Regions from separate parts of the Homo sapiens genome. Here region 2 is linked to region 1. The links come from fine-mapping of genetic effects on gene expression. Tissue or cell type: whole blood. Region 1 holds a variant in brackets; the other region holds the start of a gene. All regions are shown on one strand. Distances are between the middles of the regions.

Region 1 (2,757 bases):
TAATGGGTCCATGAGGGTTCATTTTATTTATATATATATATATATTTATTTATTTATTTATTTATTTTTTTGAGACAGAGTCTTCCTCTGTTGCCCAGGCTGGAGTGCACTGGCATGATGTCGGCTCACTGCAGCCTCCGTCTCCTGGGTTCAGGCGATTCTCCTGTCTCAGCCTCCTGTCTCAGCTCATGCCTGTAGCTGGGATTGCAGGCATGTGCCACCATGCCTGGCTAATTTTTGTATTTTTAGTACAGACAGGGTTTCACTATGTTGGCCAGACTGGTCTCGAACTCCTGACCTCAGGTGATCCTCCCACCTCAGCCTCCTGAAGTGCTGGGATTACAGTCGGGAGCCACCGTGCCCGGCCCATTATATTCTATTTTTGTGTATGACATTTTCTATTTTTAAAACGGTAAAAAAGTTAAAATAAAAATTTTATAAAAAGAAGGGCTTATGTGAACAGTATTCTGATTTTTAAATGTTTGGTTGGTATTGTTAGTCTGTAGCCTTTAGACTTTATCCCTGGCTGGGTTTGAGGTTTGTGGCTCCCTCTTCAGCTTCAGTGTCTTCTAGGTGTGGCTGCAACTGCCTTCTGGCACAGAAGGTTGAGCAGACCCTACATGTCTGATGCACACTGAAATTTCTTTTTTTATTTTTAATTTTAATTTATTATTTATTTTGAGATGGGGGTCTCACTATGTTCCCCAGGCTGGTCTCAAACTCTTGGCCTCAAGCAGTCCTCCCACCTTGGCCTAACAAAGGGCTGGGATTACAGGTGTGAGCCGCTGCACCAGCTCCCTACTGGAATTTTTTTTTGTAGAGACAGGGAGGGTCTGGCTCTGTCACCCAGATTGGAGTGCAGTGGCCTGATCATGGCTCCCTGCAGCCTCAAACTCCTGGCCTCAAGCAATCCTCCTACCTCAGCCTCCCAAGTAGCTGGGATTACAGGTGTGTGCCACCATGCTCAGCTAATTAAAACAAATTTTTTTTTGTAGAGGTGGAGTCTCACTATGTTGTCCAGGCTGATGTCAAACTCCTGAGCTCAAGTGATCCTCCCACCTCAGCCTCCCCACAGCACTGGGATTACGGGTGTGAGCCACTGTGTCCAGACTCCTGCAGGAATTTCTAATAAGCAACATGATATTTCTGGCTTGTTTTCTTTCTTTAAGTTTAAAGTACAATAATTTTTCTAGAGTTTGTCTCAATGATTATGGCTCTGGTTCATTGTTGCCTGGTGTGCAGTTTGCCCTTTGAATACTAATTCAAGGCTGGGCGTGGTAGCTCAGGCCTGTAATCCCAGCACTTTGGGAGGCTGAGGTGGGAGGATAGCTTGAGCTCGGGAGTTTTAGATCAGACTGGGTGACAGTGATACCCCATCTCTACAAAAAATAGGAAAAGTATCCAGGTGTGGTGGTGCACGCCTGTAGTCCCAGCTACTTAAGAAGGCTGAAGTGGGAGGATCCCTTGAGCCCAGGAGTTGAAGGCTGCAGTGAGCCATGATTGCGCTACTGCACTCCAGCCTGAGTGGCAGAGTGAGATCCTATCTCAAAAAAAAAAAAAAAGTATATATGTATGTGTGTGTGTGTGTATATATGTGTGTGTATATATATGTGTGTGTATATATATGTGTGTGTGTATATATATGTGTGTGTGTGTGTGTGT[GTGTA/G]TGTACCTGTGTATGTGTGGTGTATGTATACATATACATATATACCCAGAAGACAGATTGTTGGATCATAAGTTAGCTCTATATTTAATTTTTTGAGGAATCCCCATAGTGTTTTTCTTTCTTTCTTTCCTTCTTTCTTTTTTTAGACCAGGTCTTGCACTGTTGCCCAGGCTGGAGTGCAATGGCACGATCTCAGCCCACTGCAACCTCTGCCTCCTGGGTTCACGCAATTCTCCTGCCTCAGCCTCCCGAGTAGCCGGGATGACAGGCACACACCACCACACCCGCTAATTTTTTTTTTTTTTTTTAGTAGAGATGGGGTTTCACTATGTTGGCCAGACTGGTCTTGAACTCCTGACCTCGTGATCTGCCCGTCTCGGCCTCCCAAAGTGCTGAGATTACAGATGTGAGCCACCACGCCTGGCCTTCCATGGTGTTTTTCATAATGGCTATATCAATTTGCATTCCCACTAATAGTGTACAAGGGTTCCCTTTTCTCCACATTCTCACCAACACTTATCTTTTGTCTTTTTTTTTTTTTTAGAGATGAGGTCTCCCTGTGTTGCCCAGGCAGGAGTGCAGTGGCTGTTCACAGGTGTGAACATAGCACACTATGGCCTCGAACTCCTGGGCTCAAGTGATCCTCCTGCCTCAACCTCTGGAGTAGCTAGGACTATAGGCATGCACCACTGTGCCCAGCTCCTGCATAATTGTATTTTAAAATATTTGCTCTGTTCCATTGCTCAGCTTTCTTCTTTGGGAATTCCAAGTGTGAGTATGAAGTTCTTTTCTTCCTACTTTCCATATCTACTGTTGTCTCCCAAATACTGTGTATCTTTTTCATTCCTTTTTTTCTTTACTTTTTCCATTTCTGTTCTATAGGCATCTACGGTGGTATCTACCTTCTTGTGCTTCTTATCTGCCATGGTTTGTTTAGTCTTTTTTCTTCTATTCATTTCTGAGATATATTTCTCTTCTGCCTGCTCTTGCTGTCTGGCCATCTCCTCTCAGAGTTCTGGCAACTGCTTTACAGTCTTCCTTCATAACAGCTGTTGTTTATTAAGTGTCTTCTTTTCTTCCTAAAATTCATG
Region 2 (2,500 bases), 530 kb after region 1:
ATTTAGAGGCACGCCTAAACTTAGAGGAACACCTCTCTAAACCAAGGAGACACTTAAAGAGAAAAGGAGTAAAGATGGTGATGGGCTTATAAAGAGCAATGTAATAGTGTCTTTGAAGCAAAAGCTAACTTAATGAAAACGTGGTCCCAATTTCCTTAAATCTGGATCACCGTACGACTTCTGTAATACTTATTATTTCCCCAGCTGGCAAATAAACTGGAGTTCAAGTGGGAAAAAACAAGGTATTGTTCAGACTTATGATTTTTGGGGTCAAAGATTCTGAGCAATAACCTATTAAAAAACCCAGCTTTTGATTTGAGTATGTAAGTAAGTACATGGGAGGAACGTATGGATCTGGAGTGGTGGTAAATACAGAGCATGTTTGCTTCGCAAAGCAGATTAGCTCATACTTAATAATAGAGTAAATCTGTTGGGCCATGACTCAATGCACCCAAATTCTCTAGATTGCTATGTCTCTACTCGCTAAGCCTTCGGGAACAACAAGCACAGAACTTTTAGGGTGCTGTCTCACTGATGTCGGCGTTAGCTCTGGTAGTCCAGGTCAAGATTATACCAAAGATTCAGGACTTAAATTCCTGCAGAATGTAAGCCCCTTTCCAAGTTCTCTGCTTTACTGTATCCTGTTTATTTTCAAACTCAAATGGAAAAAAACGAAACAAAAACCTTGGGCTTCAAGAGGCATCCTGCCGCAAGGCCCAGCGATGTGAATTTTCAACAACCGTCTCAGGCAGATTTCATGCTGATGGTTCAGGCACTAAACTTTGAAAAACACAGTATCACAGAGTAGGGATGGTGATGTAAGAGTCATCTGTAAAAGCTGTGCTGTTTTGGCAGCCTGGGAGGCTAAGGTTTAGTCTAGGCGACTAAGGTTTAGTCCGGGCTGTATTCACACCCAAAACAACTAAAAAAGCGGAGGAGTCTTTGAGTCAATCCCTGAAGCTCCGGCTAAGAGGAAACTCGCCCACGCTCCAGGGCAGCGACGCCGGCTCCACCTCAGCCACGGCTGTCTCAAGCTTCTCGGGGTTTTCCGCCGGCTCCACCCGAGCCACAAGTCTACAGGACTCCTCGGAGCTTTCCGCCGGGACGCAAGACCCACCGCCAGAGGTTGGTACCTCCTAGAGAACAGCGAAGCGCATCCCGAGGGCCGCCGGCCGGAAGCGCCCTCCAGACCCGCCCCCTGCCCTCCGGAGCCGGAAGCTGGGCATCTGCAGCTGGCTCGGCGCACTCCACTGACCGTCCCGACGATGCTACGCGCGCCCGGCTGCCTCCTCCGGACCTCCGTAGCGCCTGCCGCGGCCCTGGCTGCGGCGCTGCTCTCGTCGCTTGCGCGCTGCTCTCTTCTAGAGCCGAGGGACCCGGTGGCCTCGTCGCTCAGCCCCTATTTCGGCACCAAGACTCGCTACGAGGATGTCAACCCCGTGCTATTGTCGGGCCCCGAGGCTCCGTGGCGGGACCCTGAGCTGCTGGAGGGGACCTGCACCCCGGTGCAGCTGGTCGCCCTCATTCGCCACGGCACCCGCTACCCCACGGTCAAACAGATCCGCAAGCTGAGGCAGCTGCACGGGTTGCTGCAGGCCCGCGGGTCCAGGGATGGCGGGGCTAGTAGTACCGGCAGCCGCGACCTGGGTGCAGCGCTGGCCGACTGGCCTTTGTGGTACGCGGACTGGATGGACGGGCAGCTAGTAGAGAAGGGACGGCAGGATATGCGACAGCTGGCGCTGCGTCTGGCCTCGCTCTTCCCGGCCCTTTTCAGCCGTGAGAACTACGGCCGCCTGCGGCTCATCACCAGTTCCAAGCACCGCTGCATGGATAGCAGCGCCGCCTTCCTGCAGGGGCTGTGGCAGCACTACCACCCTGGCTTGCCGCCGCCGGACGTCGCAGGTGACCCCCCGGGCGGCCCGTGTGCTGTCCCGGTCCTCCCACCCGCCCTGGATGCTCTCCCGCCTCCCCCAGACCCTGGGCTTTTCCGATGCCCCCCAGTTCTCTTTCCTCTTTTCCCAAGCCATCATCCCTCGGGCTACGTCCTCCCTGTCGAGGGATATTACAGACTTGGCTATCTCTTTTTCCCCTTACACGTATGTTCATTTATTAATTCATCAGGTGTAAATTCAGCACCTTGTACTCGCTGCCTGCTTTAGTAGAGTTGGGGATCCAACAGGAAAGGGGACAGACGAGGTCTCCCGCAATTTTTGCGCTCCCGTTCCCAAACTGAATTGCCCCTTCGAGCGCCAACCCATCCCTTCCCCCTTCCCTGGCGTCTAGTTTCACAATTGGGCGCACGTTTTAAAAAACAGAATCTAGAATTTTCTTCCTCGGGCTTTGCTTCCGATACTAGTTTTTCCTTCTTTCTTTTTTTTTTTTTTTAAACTCATCATCTTTTTCAGATGACAGTTTTAGACCTACACCCTGTTTTAGGAACCTGATCTCAAGCCTTTGTGTCCTCCTTTTTTCTTCTGTTTTGTTCATGTTTTTACTGTAG

The links. PIP is the estimated chance that this variant, and not a neighbour inherited with it, causes the effect.
Region 2: MINPP1 starts here. The variant in region 1 is fine-mapped to the expression of MINPP1 in whole blood (INTERVAL, PIP above 0.99).

What each region holds. Positions count from the first base shown.
Region 1 is chr10:86,975,281-86,978,037 of GRCh38, forward strand. All of the region lies in intron 1 of AGAP11 (ArfGAP with GTPase domain, ankyrin repeat and PH domain 11), which reads left to right. Among named protein-coding and RNA genes, the nearest start is that of ADIRF-AS1, 5.4 kb to the left of the region's middle. The variant GTGTA/G (reference allele first, on the strand shown) is at 1,663.
Region 2 is chr10:87,503,651-87,506,150 of GRCh38, forward strand. It overlaps MINPP1 (multiple inositol-polyphosphate phosphatase 1), which reads left to right and starts at 1,243. Exons shown (of 5, transcript NM_004897.5): 1 at 1,243-1,902. The coding sequence starts at 1,266. It overlaps MIR4678 (microRNA 4678), which reads left to right and starts at 231; the gene lies at 231-304. It overlaps LOC112268064 (a long non-coding RNA gene), which reads right to left and starts at 1,184. Exons shown (of 2, transcript XR_002957094.2): 1 at 685-1,184. RefSeq lists enhancers at 1,213-1,302, 1,463-1,522.